Regions from separate parts of the Homo sapiens genome. Here region 1 is linked to region 2. The links come from fine-mapping of genetic effects on gene expression. Tissue or cell type: whole blood. Region 2 holds a variant in brackets; the other region holds the start of a gene. All regions are shown on one strand. Distances are from middle to middle.

The links. PIP is the estimated chance that this variant, and not a neighbour inherited with it, causes the effect.
Region 1: it holds the start of SIRPB2, and the variant in region 2 is fine-mapped to the expression of SIRPB2 in whole blood (TOPMed, PIP above 0.99).

What each region holds. Positions count from the first base shown.
Region 1 is chr20:1,489,111-1,494,236 of GRCh38, reverse strand. It overlaps SIRPB2 (signal regulatory protein beta 2), which reads left to right and starts at 2,817. Exons shown (of 5, transcript NM_001122962.2): 1 at 2,817-2,962. The coding sequence starts at 2,878.
Region 2 is chr20:1,429,880-1,435,086 of GRCh38, reverse strand. No RefSeq gene overlaps it. Among named protein-coding and RNA genes, the nearest start is that of NSFL1C, 34 kb to the left of the region's middle. The variant G/A (reference allele first, on the strand shown) is at 2,639.

The DNA.
Region 1 (5,126 bases), 59 kb before region 2:
CTTGCTTAGTATGTTTTCCATTTTATGGTAAACAATCAAAAAGCTGTTGTTTTAACAAAGTTCCATTTTTGTAGTGGAAGGAAAAAAAGCTTTATGGGTAGACTTGTGTTCTATATATACCTCGGGTGCTCTTGTTGAGGATAACTTAACTCAGGCTAGTAATAGACACTATAGTTCATGTGATACCCAAGCACACTGACCAGGAGGAATGCCACTGTTCCTAGTTACTGAGCAATTATCGCAAGCCAGTGCTTCACGCGCAATCGCATTTCATGTGTTTTATAGATGACGTGACAGATATAACATTTTTAACTATTTCCTTTTGCATTTCTCCACCTCCCAGCAGTTTAATTCCTTCCCTGGAAGCTTTTTTCCTATTCTAAGCTGGAGTGTGAGACTTGCTGTCTTGAGGAAGGGGCAGGAGGGATTCCATCTAGAACAAAGAAGGCCAGCTGTTAGGAAGAAGACTGAGATTAGGAAAGTCCCTACCAGAAGGAAAAGAAGGGGAACTCCTCCCCTTATGACTTGGTGAGGAAGTAAGAAAAAGAGGGAGAAGACAGGGGTTGAGATGCTAGAGTCCTGCCAACCCCACAGTCCTGAGGTCCAAATGCTGGGGTGGGGTGGGAATGGAGTTTAGGGATTCCTACAGCATAAGGGATCATGGCCTGTCTTCCCAGGGTGTTCATAGTCCACGACATCACAAAGAAACCATATTCAACCTGGCTTCTGAGCACTAGATCAGAAACAGTAAAGGAAATGAATGTCTTCAAAAACTGGTGACTGTGGTTAACCCTAAGGAAAGTAATGTCTGGGAGCCCTATAAATGAGACACTGAGACCTCTGAATTTTGTACCTGTAGATGCCCATGGCAGATAAATCACAAAAATATCCACAATTCTATACCCCCTCTTTGTATCCACACCTTTTGCAATTAGGCTTTGCAGTTCCCTAACAAGAGGCAAAGTCTATTTTCCATTCCTTGAATCTTGTCTGGTCTTGTAACTTGATGTGGCCAAAAGAATATGGCAGAAGTTTCCTTGTACCTTGCACTGTCTCTCAAAACTGCCCCTTTCATGAGAACAAGACTAAGTTAGTGTCCTGGAAGATGAGAGACCACATAGAGGACAGCTGAGGTACCTGGGTTAACAATCAGTCAACCGCAGTAACAAAGCCACCTAGCCAACCTGCAGCTGACCTCAAGTGCATGAACATTCCCAGCCAAAATCTGCTGAGATGAGAAGACCGAACCACCAAATGGAGCCCTGACTGAATTGTCAACCCACAAAATAGTAAATTAACTGAACATTTAGTTTTTAAGCTTCTAAATTTTGGGGTGCTTTGTTATGCAGCAATAGCTAACCAATACAATGCCTTGCCTATTAAAATAAAATTATTTGTAAGTAAAACTTTAGAAAAAAACAATAGCTGAGAAAGAAATCTGCATAGATGAGCAGGTGATTCAGAAATTCCCGTGTAAGAATGACATGGAAAGTACTGAGGGTCTGGTGGAATCATCTAGGCTTGTGGCCCTTTCAAAGAAGTTTCACTATATAGATCTCATTGACAGGAGAACAAGTAGAGGGAGTAATGGAATTGAGCAGGGGTATCAATGCAAGGCCTCAAAAGTCTAGAAAAGACCAGTCACAGACCCAGTGCAAAGTCCTTGGGGACCAGGCCAGACTAACCTCCTCATAGTAGACACCAGACCTCTGGGACCCAGGGGACATACTCAGATCCAAGGCCTGCCACCCTGTTGCTGGAGAATCTTCAGCTTCCTCTGCACCCAGAACCTTCTGAAGCATGAGGGAGGAAGTGAAATAATGAAAGGCTGAGTTGTTCTTGTACTTTTCCCTGAGTTAATTAAAAGACTGAGTTAACCTAAAAGACAATGGTGAAAGCCTATAGAGTGCTTACTCCACCCCACACATGCTACCACATTTTTATTCCTGTTTTACAGATGAGGAAACCGAGGCATAAAGTGGTCAAATGATTGTCCTAAGGTCACACAGCCAGACTGAGTAAAGCCAAGATTTGAACCCAGACAGTGTGGCTAAAGAGATTGCCTGGATTGCATGAATTGGCAAGATTAAGCTTTTCCTTCTTGATAGCCAGCACCAGGAGGCTCCTGAGGAAGTTCAGATCACTTACAGGAAACAAAGATGCCACAAACGCAAATGTTTGCACAATCTGAGTATGTTTCACTTGGACCCCAGGAAACAGAGGCTGAGAGAGTTACACATGATTATACTTTTAGGAATTAGGCCTGTACCCTCCCTGCAGTGCTAAAAGGAGGCCCCCATGGGGCTTGCTTTATAATAAATCCTTCTTCTTAAGCAATGTCACCTCCTCTACTTTCTGCACATCATGAATAATAATGGTTAATATGTTTAGCATTTACATTGTTCTGTGCCCTCACATTATTTCTCATAATCTTACCAAAACTGTTCTGAGGAGGGAACTGCCGTTGTTCCTACGCTGCAGATGAAGAAACAAAAGGCTCAGAAATGGGAAGTGACTTTGAAATCTTGCACAGCCAAGAAGAGGAAGATCCAATGTTTGCTCCAAATTCCACCCGATTCTGGAGTGCGTCCTATGACCTCAGTGCCCACCTCCCTCCCGGGCACCTAGGATGGAGCCTATGGCAAGGTTTTAGCACAGTGACTACAGGAATCACAGCCCAGACACAAAAGCAGGAAACCCTTTGACCGGGCTCCTTCCTATTGCACCAACAGCCTTGTGTTGCTGCAATGAAAACACTTCCCCAAGCAGCTGTGGCCAAGAGACGCAGAAACTGCCTTGTCCACGGGCCCCGCCTCAGACTCCAACACTCACAAGAGAGCAGAGGAGCCCCAAGTCTTGGGGACCACAGAAGATGCCATGTGCTCCACGATGTCGGCCCCCACCTGCCTGGCCCACTTGCCTCCCTGCTTCCTGCTGCTGGCACTGGTCCTTGTCCCCTCAGGTAAGTGGGGTCTAGGATAGAACAGGGTCCACCCCCGGCTGGTCAGTCCCTAGAGGGGCACTAAGTGCTCTGCCATGCCTGAAGAAGCTTGACCCCATGAAGATAGAGTAAAGAGGGGTCCACTGAAAATTTGCCTGACTCCGGCAGAGGGCACCCCCAGTGTCCCAAGAAGCAGCGTAGTGAAGTGATAAGCTCCCAGGCTCTGCGCTCACACCCACTGGCTTCCAGCTTGATTGCTCCTATGCCCACGTCAGATGCTGCAGCTCTTTTAGCCCCAGGAGCCTCTTCTACAAAACAGGGACGCTCATGGGACCTTTCTCTAGGGCTACTGTGAGTATTAAATAGAAAAGTGGTGAGGCTCAGCCCTGGGCCGGCTGCATAGTTTATGAGACCCACTGCAAAATGAAAACTGCGGTCTTTTGTTCAAAAAGTATTGAGCAACACAGCAGAGCAGTAAACCAAGCATGGGCTCCTTCTAAGCACAGGGCCCTGTGCGACTACATAGATGGCACAGCCATGAACCAGCCCTGGCTCAGCTTAAGACGCAGTAGGCTCAAACCTCACCACTAACCAGTTTAAGTAATTTCTTTCTGAGCCTCAGTTTTTCCAACTGTAAAATGGAGCTAAAAATAGGACCCACCTTGGGACTTTCTTAGGAGAATTTAACAAGATAATACCCATAAGTGCCTGGCATAACAAAGATTTGATAACTCTTGGCGATTATTATTATCATTCCCATGTTTCCTCTAACTCAGGGGCAGGCCAGGTTAGCTCCAGAGTCTTGAGACCCCTGAATATATAGCTCAGCCTCTGAGTCCAGAACTCTCTGATCTACCAGGCAGGGATACTTGGCTCTCAGTGGGCTCATTCCATCTCCTGCCCATCTGGGCCTCTGCTCCAGGCTCTACTGAGATCTAGATTCTGTCCATGACATCTTTGGTCCTCCGGGGTGGCCATCCCCAGGAGAGATCCTGGCAGAACCCAGGTGTGGGGTCGGACCTAGGTGCTCCCTTACTCATTGGCCGTATGACTCAAGACACCACTTCAATTCTCTAAGCTGATTTCCTCAATTCTAAGATGTGAATCATAATTGCTAGGTCTCATTCCACAGGTACTTTTGAGTGTCTGCTATGTTTTAGGCACTAGACTAGGAAATCAGAAATCTAAACTACTCAGAATAAAAAATATTCCCAATGATTGTTGCAATAGAATAGATGGAAAATAAGAGAAGTTGCTTAAACCAGTCAGTTGGAATGTTTGAGTCCAGCTGCATCTCAAGCTGAGTCAGGGCTGGTTCTTGGGTGTGCCCTCTATATAGTGGCACAGAGCCTCCTGCTTAGAAGGGCCCCATGCTTGGTTTAATGTTCTGCTGTGTTGCTCAATAGTTTTTGAACAAGGGACCTGCATTCCCGTTTTGCACTTGGCCTCACAAATTACGTAGCTGGCCCAGGATTGAGCCTCACCACTTCTCTATTTAATACTCACAGCAGCCCCGAGAAAAATATGAGTGCCCCTATTTTGCAGTAGAGGAGACTGGGGCTAACACATTTTCTATAAGGCTTTTAAAGGGAGCCCCATACAGGAACCATGAAAGGCAGAGGATGCAGATGGAAAATAGATGAGAAGGTCCAGCTCCACTGACAAGGCAGAGGCAAACCTCCTAGGACACCTCCTAAAGCCCAAGTGACAACACAGAAGGGGACTCAGAAGGGGAGAGGGAGGGAAGGGGTGTGGGCACCAGGACTGAGTCCAGGCTCCAGCTTCTTCCCTGGTGTTCACTTCCCCAGACTCACCCCTAGCTGAGATAAGACTTTCTGAGTGCTTCCTTCTTCCTCTCCTCCATTGCTTCTTTCTCCTCACACACGCAGGCTTCATCTTTACAAATAATTTATTTTTAACAGCTCTATTGAAGTGTAAGTGACATATATTAAACCGTACATATGTAAAGTACACAATTTGATAAGTTTTTTTTGTGAGTGCTGGGTGTATTTCACACTTGTGAAATCATCACCAAAATCAGCATCATGAACATATCCAGCGCCCAAAAGTTTCCTTGTGATTCGTCCTTGCCACTCCTCCTTGTCTCCAAAACAACCACGGATCTGTATTCTGTCACTATAGTTTGCATTTTCTAGAATTGTATATAATAAGGATCACACAGTTA
Region 2 (5,207 bases):
TCTGCTGGTTCCTGCGGTTTCTTCACTTTGTGTAGACCACATCCTGTTTTGGTCAGCAGGGTTGTGACCAGAAAATAAGTTCTGCCAGACTGCTGCCTCATAAGAGTTGTTATACATTTGGCCATATGAGTGAGTATTAACTGTTAACCATTTTCTAATTCATTTAATTTTTAAAATTATCATACAGTAAAATTAACTATGTTGTATATAATTATACAGATTTCAGCACACGTATAGATTCATGTAACCACCACTACAATCAGGACACAAAACAATTCCATCATCCCAGAACCTCCCTCATGCAATGCCTTGATAGTCACACTACCCCTCAAACCCAATCCCTGACAGCCACTGATCTCTTCTTCATCATTGTGGTTTTGTCTTTTCCAGAACATCATGTAAATGGAAGCATACAGCATTTAACCTTTGGAGACTGGCCTCTTAGCATAATTCCTCTGAGATTCATCTGGAGGAACAATTTTCATATGTTGTGCTTATGGAAAGTTCATTGTTTTTTCATTGCCAAGTAATAGTCCATGATATGAATGTGCAACAATCTGTCTATCTGTTCAACCATTAGAGGATATTTGGGTTGTTGCCAGTTTGGGGCAATTAGAAATAGAGCTGCTATAAACATTCATGTACAGGTTTTTCTGTGAACAAAATTTTCCTTTCTCTAGGGCAGCAGTCCCCAATCTTTTTGGCATCAGGGACAGGTTTCGTGGAAGACAATTTTTCCACAGACTTAGGGAGTAGGGCGGATGGTTTCGGGATGATTCAAGCACATTTACATTTATTGTGCATTTTATTTCTATTGTTATTACATTGTAATATATAATGAAATAATTATACAATTCACCGTAATGTAGAATCAGTGGGAGCCCTGAGCTTGTTTTCCTGCAACTGGATGGTCCCATCTTGGGGTGTTGGGAGACAGCGACAGATCATCAGGCATTAGATTCTCATGAGAAGCACACAGTCTAGATCCCCTACATGCACAGTTCACAATAGGGTTTGCACTTCTATGAGAATCTAATGCTGCTGCTGATCTGATCTGACAGGAGGTGGAGTTCAGGTGGCAAGCAGTGGGGCAAGGCTATAAATATAGATAAAGCTTTGCTCACTCACCAGCCTCTCACCTCCTCTGTGCGGCTGGTTCCTAACAGGCCATGGACTGATACTGGTTCATGACCTAGGTTTTGGGGACCTCTGCTCTAGGGTGAATACTCTAGAGATGTCTAGGGTCTGGGGTGGCTGGGTTATATGGTAAGTGTATGTTTAACTTTATTTAAAACTGTCAAATCATTTCCCAGAGTGGCTGTTGCACTGCACATTCCTGTCAGCAATATATGAGATTTTTGGGTGCTACTTAGCTTCACCAACACTTGGTATTGTCAGCATTTTTATTTTAGTCATTTTAATAGGTGTGTAGTTATCTCTTGTCATGGTTTTGACATTAGCATGTCTTGTGATGCTAATGATGCTGAACATCTTTTCATATGCCATTTGCCACCCATAAATCCTTTTTGATAAAGCATTTTTAAGAGTCCTTGCCGGCCAGGCATGGTGGCTCATGCCTGTAATCCCAGCACTTTGGGAAGCTGAGGTGGGCAGATCACAAGGTCAGGAGATCGAGACCATCCTGGCTAACATGGTGAAAACCCGTCTCTACTAAAAATACAAAAAATTAGCCGGGCGTGGTGGCGGGTGCCTGTAGTCCCAGCTACTTGGAGGGCTGAGGCAGGAGAATGGCGTGAACCCAGGAGGCGGAGCTTGCAGTGAGGCGAGATGGTGCCACTGCACTCCAGCCTAGGTGAGAGTGCAAGACTCCGTCTCCAAAAAAAAAAAAAAAAAGAGTCCTTGCCTTTTTGTTTATTGGATTATTTGTTTTCTTACTGTTGGATTTTGAGAATTCTTTACAAATTGTGATTACAAAAATATAAATGCAGAATATCTATGAGTCCACCGTTACCTTGATATCAAAGGTATGATTCTATGAGTCCACCGTTACCTTGATATCAAAGGCAGACAAAACGACTGTCCGGTATATCTTATGAATATAGACTCAAAAAATCCTCAACAAAATAGCAAACCAAATCCAGTAGCACATTCAAAGGATTATAGATCATGACCAAGTGGGATTTCTCCCAGAAATGCAAGGGTGGCTCAACATAAGAAAAAAAAAAATCCATCAATGTAACACAACTCTGTAAAGAGGGAAATGATATCACAATAGATACATTAAATGCATGCAACAAAATTCAACACTTCAAACACTTTCAGGATACAAACACTCACCAACAAATCAGAATACAGAGAACTTCCTTAACATGATAAAGGTCACTTACACAAAACCCACAACTCACATTATACTCAATGGTAAAAGAGCAGAAGCTTCCCCACTGAGCAGGAACAAGACAAGAATGCCCATTTTTACCACTACTATTAAATATTGTACTGGAAGTCCTAGCCAGAGCAGTTAGGCAAGAAAAAGCAATAAACAGCCTCCAAACTGGAAAGGAAGCAGTAAAGTTATCTCTATTTGAAGATGAAATAATTCTATGTATAGAAAATATAACAATACCAAAATGCACACAACTACTAGAGCCAATAAACAAATTCAACATAGTTGCAGATT[G/A]CAAGATCAGTGCACGAAAGTCCATTTTCTATGCATCAGCAATGAACAGTCTGAAAATGAAATTAAGTAACAATTCCATTTATAACAGCATCCAAAAGAGTAAAATACTTAAACCAAGGAGAAAGACTTCTATGCTGAAAACTACAAAACATTGCTGAAAGAAATTAAAGAAGACCTAAATAAATGGAAGACAACACATGTTGATGTATTGGAATATTAATTGCAAATGATCCACAGATTCAATGCAACCCCTATCAAAATTCCAATGGCATTTCCTAAGGAAATAGAAAAACTAATCCTCAAATTTATGTGGAACTGGAATGAACCCCAAGTAGTCAAAATACTATTGAAAAAGAAACACACCAAAAAAGAAAGAAAAAGAAACACAAAGTTTCAGGGCTCATGCTTCCAGATTTCCAAACATGCTCCAAACTTCTATAATCAAACCAGTGTGGTACTGACATAAGGACAGACATATACACCAGTGGAATATAATTGACAGCCTAGAAATAAATATCTATGGCTAATTGATTTTCAATAAGTGTTCAGCACAACTCAATGGGGAAAGAATAGTCTCTTCAACAAACAGTGCCGGGGCAACTGCATAATCACAGGCAAAAGAATGAAGCTGGACCCGTACCTCACTCCATACACAAAAATTAACTCAAAATGGATCAATGACCCAAATACAAGAGGAAAACATAGGGGTAAACTATTTAGAGAAAAACATAGGAGTAAATATTTATAACCTCAGACTTGGCAATGGATTCTTAGATTTGACACCAAAAGCATGAGCAACAAAAGGAAGAAATGGATAAATTAGACTTCATAAAAAGTAAAACCATTTGCACAATAAAATATATTATCTAGAAAGTAGAAACACAGCCCACAAAATGAGAGAAAGTATTTGCAAATAATGGACTTGTATCCAGAATATATAAAGAACACTTAAAACTCAACCACAAAAAAAAAAAAAAAAATTAAGAAATAGGCAAAGAACCTGAATAGACATATCTCCAGAGAAGACATACAAATGGCCAATAAGCACATGAAAGCATGTTCAGCATCATTTGTTACTAAAGAAATGCAAATGAAAACCACAGTGGGATACCACTTAACACCTGCAAGAGATAAACCACTTCACACCCGCTAGGATAACTATAATCAAAAACATGGAAAATAGCAAATGTTGATAAGGATATGGAGAAATAGAAACTTGTACACTGGGATCACACAATAGAGAACACTGTAGTAACATTTTGGTCTGCTCACAAGACCCAGAACATTTACCAGTTTTTGTTGTTGGTTTATTATTTTTCTGTTAAAAAAAATTGTGAAAAGTTTGTTTTAGCTGGATGATATTTTAATAGTTGCCAGTGCTTTGGAACTATGTAGATGTCACTACTTAACACATATACCTTATGTTTTGTTTTATTTTGTTTTACACTCAGTATAAATCAGGAACATTTAGCCAACCACCTAGCATTTAGAATCCTCTTTTTTATTGGCTTCTAAGGATATGGATGTTCCCATAACAGCAACAAAAACATTTTATAAATATCACTTGATAGACTTTAAGCACCTGCTTAACTCTGAATGTGTCCCAAATATTTAGTGTAGATAGATAGATAGATATTCAACAAATAAAGCAAAATATAACATGCATTTCACATTTTGTCTTTCCCTGTTACAATTTTAATAGCAGAACTGTATGACAAATTTAGGTGATCCTAGCATATGTTAAATTCAAATTAATGTAAAACAGATCAACAACAACAAAGAAACTCTATTTGAGCGAAGTCATGCTTTCTATTATAATAACTTGGCTTCGGTTATCCATCAAATGCACACTTACACTGTTGTCTGATTGTTTATAATAAAGAATACTGAACCTATAAAAGAAAAAAGAAACCCTTGTCACTGTTGGAAGTTGCTGTGGAAAACAATTTGGTGGCTCCTCAAAAAGCTAAACATAGAATTACATATGACCCAGAAATTCCACTCTTAGGAATTATATTAGTCAGAGTTCTCCAGAGAAACAGAACCAATGCAATACATATAGAGAAGATTTATTATGGGAATTGTTTCATGCAATTACAGAGGCCAAGAAGTCCCATGACATACTATTTACAAGCTGAAGAACCAGGAAAGATGGTGATGTAATTCAGTTGAAGTCTGAGAGCCTGAGAATCAGGGAAGCCAGTGGTGTAACTCCCACTCCAAGGCCTAAGGTCTGAGAATCTGGGGGTGGGAGGCTATTGATATAAGCCTTAGAGTCCAAAAGCCTGAGAACCAAGAGCTCCATTGTCTGAGAGCAGGAGAAGGTGATCCAGCTGAAAAAGAGAGAGAATTTGCACTTCCTCCACATTTTTGTTCTATTTTAATGGGCCTTCAACACCGAAGTTCATCCATGATGTCTGCCCACACTGGGGAGGATGATCTTCTTTACTCCATCCACTGATTCAAATACTAATCTAGAAAACACCCTCACAGACACACTCTGAAATAACGTTTTACCATAGATCTGGGTATCCCATAATCCAGTCAAATTAATGCATAAAGTTAAACA